Regions from separate parts of the Homo sapiens genome. Here region 2 is linked to region 1. A link means that fine-mapping ties the variant in region 1 to the expression of a gene that starts in the linked region. Tissue or cell type: nasal epithelium. Region 1 holds a variant in brackets; the other region holds the start of a gene. All regions are shown on one strand. Distances are between the middles of the regions.

What was found. PIP is the estimated chance that this variant, and not a neighbour inherited with it, causes the effect.
Region 2: SPTBN1 starts here. The variant in region 1 is fine-mapped to the expression of SPTBN1 in nasal epithelium (TOPMed, PIP 0.93).

What each region holds. Positions count from the first base shown.
Region 1 is chr2:54,655,199-54,663,305 of GRCh38, forward strand. SPTBN1 (spectrin beta, non-erythrocytic 1) reads left to right here. Exons shown (of 36, transcript NM_003128.3): 28 at 1-10; 29 at 716-800; 30 at 2,652-2,848; 31 at 3,956-4,068; 32 at 4,738-4,801. Among named protein-coding and RNA genes, the nearest start is that of SPTBN1-AS2, 21 kb to the right of the region's middle. The variant T/A (reference allele first, on the strand shown) is at 3,305.
Region 2 is chr2:54,452,556-54,460,662 of GRCh38, forward strand. It overlaps SPTBN1 (spectrin beta, non-erythrocytic 1), which reads left to right and starts at 3,772. Exons shown (of 36, transcript NM_003128.3): 1 at 3,772-3,963.

The DNA of each region.
Region 1 (8,107 bases):
ATCTGAGGAGGTAGGTTGCTACTTTGCTTTGGAGCTGCAGCTGGCGTCAAGATGTAAAATGACTTTGTTTTATATGTTTGTGTGTGTCAGAGATACTGTGTTTACATTCTTATACACACACACATATGTTTTAAAACTCCTTTCCTGTGCGTCTAGAATAATGCAATTATGCAAGACTCTAGGCCCAGGCTGGTAAATCTCTGGCACAGAAGACAATTTTTGAGGGCTACAAAATGGACTCCGCATCCTCCCCAATCAGTACTCTTTCTAGGTGACGCCAATGTCCATTGACTATGCCCTAGATCAGTTTGCTGTTGAGTGCATGGTTGGTGATTCTGGTTAGGATGGTGGTAATAAAGAGGTAAATTATTAGGTGCGTGTGTGGCCCCCTGCATGGGAATGGGCATCCTCTCCAAGAGGTCAGGGCTTTGTCCGTCTTGCTGTCCCTCTCCTGAACGTGTTTGCCGCAGGGAGCCTCCTCACGACAAAACAGCTTTGGCAGGGCTTCCGCGCCTTCCTCCAGCCCCTTCTGGAAGGAGCAGTGCTATGCTTTTCTTTCCTCTCCCAGTCCTCAGACAGACTGAGCAGTCCTTAGATATCTCCCAGCTTAATGGTGGTCTTTGCAGAAAATGTATTTTTCTAGTATAAAATGACCCCATCAAGAGGATGTGGTGCATTCCATTAAGATGTCCCGGGGATCCTCTTTTTCATACAGATCAAGGAAAAATTACTGCAGTTGACGGAAAAGAGGAAAGAAATGATCGACAAGTGGGAAGACCGATGGGAATGGTTAAGACTGAGTAAGGATGTAGTTTATCTTTCTGCTCTTTTGGGTATCAATGGAAAACATGCACGTTTATTTTCTTGCTTTAATTCATTAATGTTATCATTTAAAGATTGTTCGAGTTGTAGATGCCTTTTTAGTGCCCCGTTTCACCATTTCATGGTAAATACTACTTTTAAGAAGCTTCCTATGGCGTAGTCATTTTTCACCTCTTGATTGATCTCAGTGTCATAGGTGGGATTTGGATGTTCTTTAGGGATGACAGAGGGCACCTCCCTGGGAGAATACAGATAGAAGCCCTCTCCCCCATTTGTCTTCAAGAATTCTTACTACAGAATCAAGTTGGAAAGTTGATCTCATTAAGTCATATTTGGTGCTCTTAGTGGAATGTTGATAACATAATAAAAACTAACATCTATTAAAATTTTGCTGTGAATGAGGCATTGTTCTAAGTGGTTTTTTAATGTATTTCTGTGTTTATTCCCCAAAGTGACCCTGTGAATTAGATTCTATTTTTAATTCTCATTTTATAAGGGAATATGTGAGCTAATACAGGGTTTATAATGTACAGTATTAGGAATAGCATTTCATAATTGGTATGAGCACTAACAGCGCAATTCTAGCATTGCTTACCATGCTTTGCCATTCTCTGTTGGAGTTCTGGGCTCTGTCCTTATGTTCTAACTCCATCTATGCATGTTATGGGGGTTTACTAGAAACCAAATGCAAGGGCCTTTTCTGAGAGGTTTGACGGCACACTCTGTTGGGCCCAGAGCCCTCAGAAATCCCACTTTTTGACCATTCTTTGCAGGAGGATTTGGTCTGTATGTTTTGAGAATTGTGGGGCAGTTTCATTCAGCTCAGCAAAACCCACATTACACACTGAACCGGGCACCAGCTTGTACACCAGGGACACAGTGATATGCACAGTCCCTGCCTTGAAAAGCCAGTAAGTCCCTAGTGCAGAGGTGGCATCTTCTTCATGTAGTCATGTTGGGGGCTACCGAGGTGCTGAAAGCAGATAGCTAGCCAGCTCCTTGGGACACCAACGCTGCCCACAGTCCATTTTTTACCTCAATGATCCCAGGCTTTGCTGCATGAAATGAAGTGAAAATCAGTGTTAACTATAGCAGAAAGCCTGGTTCTAACCTACCTTCTCATAACTATGTTGGAACTAGTGTTCCATTTCCTCACAGGTGGAAGAACAGAATGAAACAGAGCAAAAGCCTTGGTCCCCACCATCTGTAGTGTTCCCATATCCTTCCCTCCCTCTAAACCCCCCAAAATAAAACACACAACTACCGCCCAAAAGAGGGCGAGTTAAGAATGCCTGCCCATCTGGCTACGTGTAGATTGTGAATTCCTGCAGGTCTCTGAAGGCTTAGCTCATGAAGTGGGGCCGAGTGAACAGAGCGTTCACTGTAGACCTGCGCTGAGCAGTATGATAGCTGCTTTCCCACGTGTGGCTCTTGAGAACTTGAAATGTCTCAAATTGAGATGGGCAGTGAATGTGTGCCGTAAAATGCACATCAGATTTAGATTTAGAAGAAAAAAGATTGTAACAGATCTCAATAGTTTTTTTCATATTGATTACATGTTGTAATAATTTTATACATATTATGTGAAATACACTATTAAAGTTAATTTCACCTATTTATTTTTACTCTTTTTAATGTGGCTACTGGAAAAGTCAAAGTTGCAAGTGTGGCTCACATTACATTTACATTGGACAGGGCTAATTTAGAGTAGACGATAGACTGGTTATGCAGGTAGCCATCACCAGAGGGCAGCAGTGCCAAGAGGTAAGGCCATATGACTGCCCGGCACCTCCTGGTCAACGTGTACTAACTCATGGTACCCTGTGCAGTTCTGGAGGTCCATCAGTTCTCAAGAGACGCCAGTGTGGCCGAGGCCTGGCTGCTTGGACAGGAGCCGTACCTATCCAGCCGAGAGATAGGCCAGAGCGTGGACGAGGTGGAGAAGCTCATCAAGCGCCACGAGGCATTTGAAAAGTCTGCAGCAACCTGGGATGAGAGGTTCTCTGCCCTGGAAAGGCTGACTACAGTAAGTGGCCGCTGGGCCCTTTGTCTGTTGGTGCCCTGGGCAGCCTTTTCTTCCTGCTTGCCTCTTAGACCAGGGAATTCACACGATTGCTTGTTTTTGTTTTTTGGGTTTTTTTCAAGTAGTGAAGATCATCTTAAAATGGGTGGCTCCTGTGGAGCAGGACCTAGGGAGAGGGTCAGGACTGTTACCTCCTCAGTCACATCCTGGGCACCTGGATTTATGATCCCTTATAGTAGCTTCCTGCCTGGGGGTTGATTGGTGGTGTTTGCTTTTTTCTTCGAATCTTTCATTCTCCCCTATCTCATAAAAGCTTTGTTCTCAAGGGGGCATGGCCTCAAAATTTTCTTCAGAATTTCAGAATTAGAATTCCCATCAAATGGAAGCTTAATCCTAGCCTGTTGTTAAGTCCCCAGTCCTGATCCCCTCTTCTGTCAACATAAAGGCCTTAGAATAGGA[T/A]TTGTGCACTGGTGTTTCCTCTCCCAAGACTTTTGCATTCCTGGTAGAAAGCTGATCCTTTGCAGTGTACAAAAATGGTGTTTCTGGTTTCCAGTTCTGGGTGTTTAAAATGTACCTGCATACATTTGTGTTAAAACAGAGTACTTCTGGTACATCCATATGACTCATGAAATGGCTTTGTTTCAGTTAGACTATTCTGTGGCTTTTTAATGTGTTGTTTGGGTTTTGGCTGAACACAGATCCCCACCACAGCACAAGCGGCTTCCTTGAGAATTATTGCAGCTCTGTCCCTGGTGTTTGTCTGAGCTCTCCTGGGGAGTCCAGCATGAACCCTCAGGCTCAGGTACTTTTCTCCTCAGCAGAGTTGAGAGTTGCATAGTTACTTTAGAAATTAAACCCAAGCTCCCAGGGGTCCTACAAACAACTCACAGGAATTTTGCCAGCCCATGGAATAGACTATTTCCTGTAGTTTTAGGTTGTAGCTGCAGTTCCTGTGAACCTAATTCCATTTGGCTCAGGATGTTAGAGCTTCTTGTCCAGTGTGGTCCAGTTTAGCAAACTAGACAGGAGGACTTCCTGGGTTCCTAGAACCTTTTTCTGAAAAGAGGCAGAGTTTGGGACTCTACCAAACATCACTCTATTTTCTCTTAGTTGGAGTTACTGGAAGTGCGCAGACAGCAAGAGGAAGAGGAGAGGAAGAGGCGGCCGCCTTCTCCCGAGCCGAGCACGAAGGTTTCAGAGGAAGCCGAGTCCCAGCAGCAGTGGTGAGTCCCAGCAGCTCCAGAGGCTGGACCCTTAGCCTCGGTGGCCAATGAGGTTTATGGGGCATCTTTCTGAAGCCTTGCATTGCTAGGCCTAACCACATGCCCTGCCTACTGATTGCTTCCATAGACTGTTTAAAGGCTGTACAGTTATCCCTAAATAACCTTGGAGGGCACTGATTTGTCCACAGTCACATAGGTATGTAGGTGGCAGAAGTAGAATGTAGACAGTGCCCTTTCTCATCCTGTGTGCACACACACAGGATGCTCAGAACTTCCATATGATTAAATGCATGGAGTGAACTGCCCAGATTTTAGGCCAGTGATTTTGTGGTGATGCGTTTTTTGAGAGTTCTAAGTAACTTCACACAGAGGGCAGCAATTATTCTCTACTTCCAAAGGGCTAATTATTTTGCTATGGTAAGAGTTCCATGGCAACCTCTAATGCTGCCTTTATGTGGTGGAGCGGGGCATAGGGCATTCCTGTAGTCGTATTTTTCTGTCTAGAGTCTATTTAAAACACTTGGAAGTTTCAGATTTAAAAAGAATTAAATTATGTGAAAAGGTTGCACGTAATAAAATTGAGTGATGATGTTCTCCCACCCTTTCTTACTGTTTCCTCTTTCTCCTCTTCTTCCTTTCCCTTCCTCCTTTTCCCCTCTTCCCTAACAGGGATACTTCAAAAGGAGAACAAGTTTCCCAAAACGGTTTGCCAGCTGAACAGGGATCTCCACGGGTTAGTTACCGCTCTCAAACCTACCAAAACTACAAAAACTTTAATAGCAGACGGACAGCCAGTGACCAGCCATGGTCTGGACTGTGAAGTTCACTACCATTTGTCAAGAATCACCCTTTCCAAATCCTCTGGGTTTTGACTTTTTGGCTTCCACTTCACCCAAAATGTTAAAATTTTTACTTAATTCATAGCCTTCCTTGGTTTCATATTTGTTTGCATTTAATTCATGTTTGAGTCTCTTAACTGATGGATGCCCACTTGCCTTAAAGCAGCATACTTATTTTTTGTTTATTTATTGTGAGCTTTTTACTTTATTAAGATTTTACAGCGAAACCCTTACATGAGTAATTGAAATGAAATTAAATGAGATTACAGCATAATGAAGAAGAAAACTAGAATCTAACAGGTATGACACATTCAGTTATTCTAACAGGGCACAGTACTGTGCTATATGTAGCCGCCTTTACAGATGTTATTAACCTATAGTAGTTTACTATTAACTAGGAAGACTGGTGTATGAGGAGGGAGACATTCTGTAATAAGATTAAAACCTAAAGTCAGCTGTGTAACATTCCATGAAAGATGCATTCATTTATTGAAGATGACAAAAAAGGGAGTCAGATATATTCTGGAAGCTATTTTAATTTTAGGCACACAATCTCATACATTTTGAGACCCTTGGGTCATTTATTACTTTTTACAAACTAGTTCCTCTCTTTTTTTCTGCCAAGTCCTGAATTGAAAACTGTAGGCTTCCTTGCACAGATGTTGCAGCCAGCCTCAGGAGTAAAGTGCCCGCTGACTGCTGCCGCCACCTCTGTCTCGCTCCCTGTCAGTGCTGCTGGCACGTGGGACGCGGCAGGTGACAGCCGTTCTCAGCATGTTTTAGAAGCTTGCCTCACAGACTTCCATGCCTCTCCATTCAGCCGATGACTTCAGGGTGTCAAACTGTTTTAATTTTTCAAACAAATGGAACAGAAGCCATTGTGGTTCATCCTGATTACTTGAACGTTGCACTTGGTGGACCGTGCCTGGGAGCGCTCGCATGCCCCCTGGCTTCAGAAGTCATGTCAGTGTCTCTGTAGACAAACTCCACTGTACATCTTGGATTAATCTTCTGATTCATTGTTCATTTTCTCAAGACTTTTTGTGGAATTCTCTGATAAAGGAAGCTTTTAGGATGGTATCTATCAGGCCACCAGCAGGAATTGAAAATGTTTTCACAAAAATCCTTTTCCTTAGAAATAAAAGCTGGTGACAGAGATGGTTTCCTTGTACCGATAAAAACAAAACCAAATCCATATTATACATCAAAACCTTGTGAGACATTCACTTGCTCTTTTGCCATATTTAGATGTGTCAGTGGAATCAGAAACCTGTTTTGATATGTGTTCTCTATGAGTTAAGTCTGATTTGTCTTTTTATTTCATGATGCATGTCTTTTTTTTCTTTTGTCAGGATAACGTCATATAGCATCTTGTTTGTTTTTCCTTATCTCTATGTACATATCTATCTACTTCTGACTGTAGATGGGTATATAGATAGATGCCAAGCTTCTTATGTTCTGGGGGTAGTATGCATCATTATTGGGTCTCTGCCTTAAAACACATCAAAATTCATTTTAGACAAAAAAACTTCTGCTTTGTCTTTGGTCATTAGGGAGCTCTAATGTGTGTTTGTGGCTCCAAGTTACATTTTGTGTTTCATTGATCTATATGTATATATGTGATGTTTTCATATATATATGTGTGTGTGTTTAAATTTTGTATCATCAGGACTGACACCCAATTTGACACTTTTTGTATCTAGAAGACCCTCCAAAAAAGGAACCACATAAGCACACAAGAAAAGAGTGCTATGATGTTCTTAGCATTTGCTATCATGCCTATTTTTATCTAGATTTTTAAATGTAGCTTGTCATAACAAAATTTTAATTACAATTGGCTTGTATGAGAAGAAAAAGTATTTTTATTGTTTTGAGTGATGACGCAGAGACTCAGTGAACTTGAAAATAGCATTGCTTCGTGCACTTTGAATACCAATCAGGTGTTTTCTGTGCTACTAGTTGTCACGTTGCATTCATGTTCACCTCCTGATTTAAGTATCTCGGGTGTGCCCAGCCACTAAAGCACTCTGGACTAATCGCTAAAGAGAAGCAACGTGGGGGGTGGGGTTGCGAGGGATGTGTTCACATGTACCCATCATTTGATCATAGCACTGTGATTGCTTTTGATGTGTGTCTCTAGTGGTGTGCTGTCTGTTGGCATGCTTAAAGCACATGTCCATTAAAATTCATTTTGTTCCTTTTATTTTCCTTGTTTTCTTGGTTAGTGATTCATTTGCATAAACATTAATGATCTCTGCATACTGGTTTGGGGTTTTCTCTTTCCTTCTAACTCTAAAGAAAAAATTTTTGCTGCAGAATTATCCTCAGAAGAGGCTTCCCTGGCCTTCATCTACCTTGCAGTCTGACCAAGTATGATAAATTTTAGCCGTTTTCAAGGAAACATCTCTCTACCCAGGTCATTGCTGTCACTAGCAGCTTTCAAGTCAAACCTGCAGCACTAAATTTTTTTTTATCCTGGTTTCTCTACATACTAACCCCATGTCTCTCTGGACTCACACCTGGCTCAGGCCTTCCAGACCAAACTCATACTTCCTCCTCACCAGAAGTTTCCGAATCTCACACTAGAGAAGATTTGTCACCTTTAAAGTCCACTCACATTATTTTGACTCAGGGTTTTGTTTTTTGTCTATTTCCCCTCCTGCAACTCTCCTTTAAAAGTGAAAAGAGAGAGAATGGTTTAAGTAGTCTGTTGCTCATAAGCACGTGTCTGCAGTCTGTCACTTGCAAGGCCTTGGTGATCACCATGCAGCACTTGTGCGCACACACACCCCCACAAGTCTTTTTTCCTAATAATCCATTTTCCACATTGCCATGAGGGTAAAGGGTTCCAATCAAAACCACCATTAAACTGCATAGTTTCTAGTCTTCCCTCAGCCCTGATGCTAATTATGATAGTTTGCATAGACATAACTTAAACTTGTGATTCTCCCTCCTTCCAGAGCTTTTTGTAGCCCTTTTTCCCCCCAAAATTAGTTTTGTTCAAAATCAAGCATTGGGCCCAGCCATTAAGATAAGACCTAATAAGTGAGAGATACAGTTCCCAAGAGTTTACAGATCCAGGTGTTCACATGGTGGTGGCCAGTCTACCGTTTATCTTGTCAAGGTTGTTACTGCTAATTTGGTGTCACTTTGGTCTTGGGCAGCAGTGGTGGGCGACGTATCTAATGAGCGTGCCATTG
Region 2 (8,107 bases), 200 kb before region 1:
TACATCGTTGTGGAACCATCACTACCATCCATCTCTAGAACTTTCTTCCATCTTGCAAAATAGAGTTATGTTGAGTAATTCATATGCAATGCCCAGGCATACAGCTCTGATATGCTAGCTCCTAAGATATCTCTGGCACTTAACTAGCTGTGAGAACTTGGGCAACTCATTTGACCATTTGGTCATCCACAGAATGGGGTTAATATTTACCTCACAGAACTGGCAAAAGGACAAAATAAGATAATATTTGATAAAGCATTTTAAAAACTGGAAAACATTTTATGGTTGCTACTTATAATCATTATTATTATTAACATAGAAAATGTGAAGATCTTTTATAGAAAGCTGAGACCATTTATTGTGATCATTTTATAAATATTGTTATACATTTAGGTTACCATCTATTCAGATTTATCATTACACATATCTTTTACTTTTTTATTGATTGATTATATCTAGAATGGAATACTAGATATAATCTACTAGAATGGAAGATCCATGAAAGCAATGATTTTTTAAAATTATTTTACCCATTGCTCTATTTCAGAGCCGAGAAGAATATAAGGCATATCTATCTCTTGAATAATGAAAGAATAAATTACTTTATGCAAGAGTAAATATGTTATTAGTGCTTTAAAAAATTCATTCATAATGATAGTTTACATATAAGTCTTTAGGTTTTCCCAGTGCAAAATTAATACATGTGAATTCCCAAATGAAATATATTTTAAATATGAGGAAATTTCCCAGACTAGTTCAGAGTTAAAAGGAAGCAAGTTTAGGAGTAAACAGGAATTTTAAAAATATATGCAAGTTTTCAAAATATGTTCTGATTTTAAAGTTTTGGGCTATTATCAGTACAATAAAAGATGAGTTCAATTGGGTTAATATAATATAACCAAGGAAATACTTAGAGTATCATTCTCTTTTCTAAACAAAACAGGTTGTAGTAGACAATACTGTTTATCAATACCTTTTTATTTTATTTTATTTTATTTTATTTTTTGAGACAGAGTCTCGCTCTGTCACCCAGGCTGGAATGCAGTGGTGCGATCTCGGCTCACTGCAACCTCCGCCTTCCAGGTTCAAGTGATTCTCCTGCCCCAGCCTCCAGAGTACCTGGGACTATAGGCGTGTCTCACCATGCCCGGCTAATTTTTGTATTTTTAGTAGAGACGGGGTTTCGCCATGTTGGCCAGGCTGGTCTTGAACTCCTGACCTCAGGTGATCCACCCACTTCAGCCTCTCAAAGTGCTGGGATTACAGGCATGAGCCACCGTGCCCAGCCTTCCCCTACATTCTGAATGGAAAGTTAAAATGACAATTTATATCTGTAAAAATTTTGTAATAAAGTATTTTGATGGGAGATAAAGCCATATGCAATCACATGGTTTTAAAAGTGGAGAGTAGTATGTTACAAACATGATATTGAAGACTTCTAGGTTCCTTTATATCAACCCTGATTCTAATATGAGAAGAAACTAAGCCGCTTCTGAGATACATGGGAATAATCCTTCTGAGCTGTTATCACTGCCTAAGACTTTTTATCTTTTTTAGATTTTGCCTTCCATAAAAATGTCTTCTCCAATAATCTTTCCAGTTGTACTATCTTTTCTTTGAATTGTTACTTCTTTTTGGTCGTTGGTACACTGAGTTCTCTAGGGTGATTTTTTGCACCTAAGGGTAAGAATTCAAAATTGTGATGCAGGTATTTACAGTAGAACTCTGAATCCTTGTCTTTCACATTTTTGGAATAATTACTGGGGCTTTACTAGAGTACCTTGCTAAGGTGTGTGTGGCCTTTTTTTTTTTTTTAATTAAAAAACAACGTAAGTGGGAGTGGAATGGGGTAAGGGAGGTGAATCATTCATCAAATGAAAATTTATTTAAATACCGTTGTCTGTGATAAAGGAATAACCATTTCAGAATAACACTGGAAGAATTAATTTAAATGGATGCACTTCCCAATATTGTTACTGTTTTCTTTGGTATTTCATTAACATTGTGAGTGGGGAGGTGCTGGGGTCCATGGTAAAAAAATAAGTAAGTGAAAGGCAAACAACTTTGCTTTCTAGTGGATTTCCCTTATTACCTAATGAGGGCAGCAGCTTACAAGTTGATTGTGTTCAATTCAACAAATTTGTTTTAGTACCTAAGTGCCTGCTATATGTACAGAGTGAAGAAAGAAATAACCCTACCTTTAAGAGAGTTTACGGTCTGGTTGTGTTGATTCACCTTCTGAGAAAAAATGTTATTTGCTTTCCTCAATTTTTTTCCTATCAAAAGTAAACATAGGTTCAAACATTCAAACCTATGAAGGCCTAAAAGGAAGAATCATCTTCAGTTTGCTGTGACGATTTCACTGAGTTTTATTTTAAAATATTCATTTAAAAATACATACAAACATATAAACCCATCAGGCCAGGTTCTAGTGATCTGAGATATAAGCATGATACAAACTACTTGGCTGCCGTGTATTTTTGTTTTATTTTAATCCAGGTGATCAGGTCTGTATGGGGAAAAAGCCCTGGGGCTTTTTCAAACAGGAAGGGCCCTCCTCCCTCTGAATGCCCGCAGTGCCGCCCTGTGCACTTTACAGAACAAGGAGAAAGTCAGTTTCTTCAAACTGCTTTTCTAAAGAGCGTTTCCATTCGTGGTCCTGGTGATTCCACCATCTTTTCTTCACAACAGTGACGGTTCTGGAATTTCTACACAGCCTGAGGGGCTGACGGGGTAGACCAGGTGACTGGGAAGGGGCAGTGGCACATGACAAAAATTTGAGGAAACGTCCAGTTTCCGTTTCAGGGAATGCGCATAGGGGAAAACGCAAGTCCCCACGCCATCACGGGGCCCTCCACCGCGGCCGGACGACCCCTCTCTCGGGAGTGACTGGGGCAGGGCACCTGGCCTCAGGTTCGAGCGGAGCCTGCACTGAGAGGCAGGAGTTGGATGAACCACTTGTAGGGTCTGCTCCCAGCTACCCAAAGCGAAAGGGTGGGCGAAAAAGCATTTGCAAAAGAATACATTAACCTCACAAGGAACGACCCCCACCACCCATCCTCCAGCGCCCAAGGTTTCCCACGAAGAGGTCGCCGTCGCCCTTCTCCAAGTTGGGTAGAACCTATAAGGCATCACCAACTGCATCTCAAACCAACCAAGCAAGTGACGCTCCAAAACCTCCCTAAATACCCTCTCTCCCCAGCATTCCGAACGCAACATCAAGGGCGAAAAGAGGCTGCACAAATCACGTAGAAAATTAGACCGCCTCTTTCCATGGCGATAATCGAATTAGCCTCAAATTAAACGTGAAATTGGCCCTCTCCGGCTGTGGAGACAAAGCCCCTATTGTCCTGCTCGGGTAGCGGCAGCAGCAGTGCCCACCCCGCCCCGGCCAGCCTGGTCGGTCCCCGCCGCTGGGAGGATGAGGTCCGGGCTGGACCCGGGAAGAGCCTCAGCTGGAGAGGACGTGGACGCGCCCGAGGCTCGGCTCCCTGGGCGGCTGCGGGGCTCCGGGCAGGAGGAGAGGGCGGGCGAAGCAGAGGGAGCGGGCGGGAGTGGGGAGGGAGGAGTGCGGAGGGCGGAGGGCGTGCGGGAGGGATCCCGGGAGTGCGCTTGTGTGTGTGTGCGCGCGCGCCCGCCCCGCGCGCTCCTCTCCCCGCCCCTCGCCCCCTCCCTGCGAGCGCCCTCCTCTCCTCCTCCCCCCGCCCCCCGCGCTCCCGCCCAGCCCCCGGAATCAGTGCCGCTGTTGCCGTGCAGGCTGCGGATTCCTCCAGTCCCTCCCTCGGCCGCCTCTCCTCCCGGAGCGAGCGCGCAGCCCTGCGCAGCAGCGCCCACTGGTCCCGTCCTGTGAGCCCCGGCCCCAGCCGCGGACAGACCCGCGGAGTCGCCTCCCGGCCCACCCGCCCGGCCGCCGAGGAGCGGGAGGAGGACGGGACCCCGGCGCCCCCACCCCATCCCCGGGAGGTAGGTAGGGGGCCCGAGGCAGGGAGATGCCAACTCACTGGGGCTGCCTCCCGGGTGGGCTCCGCGGCGGCGGACGGGCGGGAGGAGGGGCGCGGGCCCAGGGCCGGAGGACGCCGCTGCCCGCCTGCCCTGCGCCCGGGGAGCCGCGTGGGGGCAGGGAGGCTGCAAAGCCCGGGCGGGGGCGGCGCGGGGAGCCCGGGTCGCGGGTGCTCATTGGTACTCGGATGATGCGGGACGAGGGGCGGCAGGCTCTGCGGTGAGGCGGCAGCAGACCCGCCGTGCGCACCGCTGCCGTCCGGCCCCAGCCCCGGCGCGGCGCGGCGATTCCTCCTCCCTGCCTCCGCCGGCGCCTCCCTGCAGCCGGGCGCGGCGGCCCCTGACGCGGAGGCCCCTGGCGCGGAGGTGGGTGCGGAGCGGACAGCGGACAGCCGGAGGGTCTATTTTCAGGTGCCCTCTCTGTGGCCCCGCGGGTGGGGAGCGGGGGCGGCGGTGACAGGGCCGGGCTCTGCGCGTAGCGGTGCAGGGGATGCGGCCAGGCGTGGTCCCGGCTGCGCCGCGCTGCAGCTGAGCCGGAGGCGGCGGCCCCGCGCCCCCACCTCCGCCCCATCCCTGCGCTTGCTACCCTCGTGCGCCCGCCCCCCCCCCGCCCTTTCTGCCGTCCCCACTCTCCCAGGGCTGGGCGTGAGCCGCCTCCGGGCGCCGAGCCGCCGCTGCGCCCGCCCTTCAGCTCCTGCCACCCTCTCTTCAACAGGTTTGTCTCAGCGCAGGGACCCTCCGGGCCTGCTTTGGGTAGGTGGGCTGGCTCGTCATCACCCCCCACACCACGCCCACGGCCCTCTTTTAGGGGGCGCCTTCTCTTTGTTTTTGTGATAGGAAAGGTGCCAACTGCTGCCATCAGATGAGGAGGGGGTGGGGATCAGAACGCAAACCTCTGTCCATTATTTTTCCAATCGAAAGCCAGGCCAGATAGTAAGTGAGGACAGGGTGCGTGTGGGGGTGCTTCGGCGGAGCAGAAAATTGAATTCGGTGGGGTTTATTTGGGCGGGGATGTGCTTTTTTGGCAAGATGGATGGCTCACGGTGCCCTCGCCGTGATGCAGCACAATGCAGCAGTATCGCAGCTTCCTTGGTTCTCGCTGGCGGGGCTTGGCACGGCCGCTCGGCGCCTGCGGCCCCCGCCCGGCCCCACCCAGGCCCGGGGCTGCCCTTGGCCGAGGCCTGGAGCTGCTGCTACCTTGTCCTGCAGCTTCTGCTGGATGTGGCGTCAGGAGGACCAGGTCAGCTAGGTGTGAGCAGGGGAGAGTCTTTTCTTTTGGGATGATCCCTCCTGCACCTCTTCTTGGGCTGCGCTCTGCCGGAGGGGCGCCCTGCATCACCAGTGCAGGCAGAGGGGAGCCGGCCTGTGGTTGCGGATCGGAATCTGATCTGCGACCAGGGGACCTGAGCCATAGGGAGGGGCTGCAGGAAGGACTGGGCCCAGTGGTGTGCGGAGGCAATGTTGCAGTGTGGGGAGTCGCAGCGTTTTTCTGTGGATCGTCCATAATCTGTAACCACAACCCAGCTATGCATTAATTTTTTCTACGTGAAAAGTTGGTGTTTATTAATTGGACCTTCACAACTGTGACATTACAGTACCTCGTCTGTCTTTGGTTAATACCAAGTATGCATTTTTTCTGTAGGAAACCATTTTTAAATGAAATGATTAATGCATTTTGGGTTTTATGTCACTAAGACATTTATAAGTATATTAAAATTCAGTAGGTTGTTTTAAAAGGAATTTATATGTTTTTTAATGGATAGTAAATGATTCCTTTAGCTTGTATTTTGTTTTCATCGTTTGCTTTTTCTAAGTCAAGTACAGTTGCATTATTTGGATGCTTTATTAAGGATTATTAGGTGTATGAGTGTCATGATGGGGGCTAAATTGGTATTCAGATTTCTATTGATTGAGGTAGCCAAGTTAAGTGTCCGGGCGTAATTAATGGGATTATGACAGTAACACTGCGTTTGTGTTTGTTTATATGTATTTTTTGTATACATATTTTTCACAGCTGTGACTGGGGAGAGGGTGGAGAAGGGCAGACCACCAAGGCCTCTTGACTGGCATCTAGTCAGAAGGAGATGGTTCCCAGTGTTCTCATGTTTAGTCTCGGCCAGGACACAGGGAATTTCCCTTCTAAATGCCATCTCTATAATTCATTATTCAGTGTGGGATGGCAAATGGGATATATTTCAAATGTCAACCCAGGCTTTCCTAAAATGTTTAGGTGAAAAAGGAAATTTCAATATGCTAGTTGGAAGGGAAGGTCAGTGTTTACAAGCCAAGGGCGTGCCTGCTTGTATTTTTAAATATTTCTAATGAATCCAAGTTAGTTGCTTTTGATTTCATGTGGCTCTGCAGAATAGAACTGCATGTACATTGTGTGGTGTATGTGCGTTATTTTGAGTTTCTCTAATAGCCATTAAAATATGAGACTTTTTGTGCTGGTTGTGTAAAATCGTGTTGCGTACAGATTTTTATGAATGTTGTTCCCATGGATCATCCAAACGTTTTGGATTTACTTTGTTGTAAGAAATATCCTGTGTTGATGTCACAGGAGGTTTAGCTGTTCTGACTTACACAGCAGGTGCAGAATTCTGTTGGGTTAAGCTCTTTGTAACTCTGTCATTACTGGAGTGACCAAAACCTTCATCTGAGAGGAGAAGTATTGGGCAGTGAAGGAACTGCTGTCACTAGGTCGTCTCCCACAGTTGAGGTTTTCTGTGAAGAACTTCTCTTGGGCAAGACTAGTAACAACTATCTGTGATGTTGCAGAGCAAATGAGAAGACCTCCCTCTACTTGTGACACATCCTGAGCAGAGGCTTGGCATTGGCAGAGTTTCCTGGAAGGGTTTGTAGAGTGGTTGCTTTGTCTTGATGTTTGAATGTATGACTTTACATGTGGAAGTACTATTTTGACGTGGAAGGATTTTACTACTGCTAACATAGACATGATTAGTGGAAATCATTCAGTGTGGATTTTGTCGAAATAATTTTAAGCTTTTCTTTTTAATAGCATATTCTTATAGAACATTTTAAAGCCTAATTTTTTTTACGTGCAATGACATGATGCTCCTTTAATTATGTTGCATCGTAACTAGTATCTTCATTATAATTGGGCTTTATTTAATGGCAGCCGTAGTTTCTTTCACTACATTATTGGAAATGCAAACCATTCTTCCAGAAGGAAGGGGCTAACTACCCCTGTTAGAAGAGTGAACTTTGTAGGTCTGTGGAAGTGAGTAAAGCATCTCATGGGTTTTTCTTGTAAATTTTCAGTCTTTGCTTTTTCTCAGGGCATCTTTTCTTTGCAAAAGACCTAGTTTAGTACTCTGATTTTTCCGGTAGCACTTGTAATTATATTTAAATTTTTATTGTGTGGGAATAACATCATCTATTTTTTTCTACTCAGTGGTTAAAGGAAATTACACCAATTAGATATACCTGTGTTTCTATTTTTAAACATCTCTGGAGAAGGCATTTTCATAATGTCCTTTGCTATCATAGTGAGGTTCACGGACCTTCAACATTAGAATCGCCTGGAAGCTTGTTGCAAATGCAGATTCTTAGGCCCCACTCTGAACTCAGCCAATCGGAATCAACATTTTAACAAGACCTTTAAGTGAGTTGTATGCACATTAAATGAAGAAACTCTATTCTGTTCCTTCAGCAAAGGGACCTCAATATCAAAAGTTTCCTTCTTGAATTTTCCTTTCTTTTGCTGAAGTATCAGCACATTTTTTTCCTTGATGGTGGTGACAAAAGTGAGGCTCTCACTGTAAATTATTTGTTTAATACAAAATTATTTTATAAAGCTGTTCTTTAATTCTTGGTGGAAGAGTCCTATATACCATGGTTTATTTAGATTAATCAGTGTTTTAGGTTGTTTTGTAAAACACCTCTAAAGTTGAAAAACAGTCTTTTTCCCCTCTGGAAGAAAAAGGCATTGGTTTTGAGACATCAGAGCTGGAGCCTCGGAAGCTAACCCCTGAGCAAAGGGTCCTCTCTGCTCCCTCTGCTCTGGCATCTTGATGTCTGTCATCTGATATAGTCAATGTCCTGCCCTCTCGTCCAGTCTTTTCTTAGAGTTCTTTTTTGAATCAAC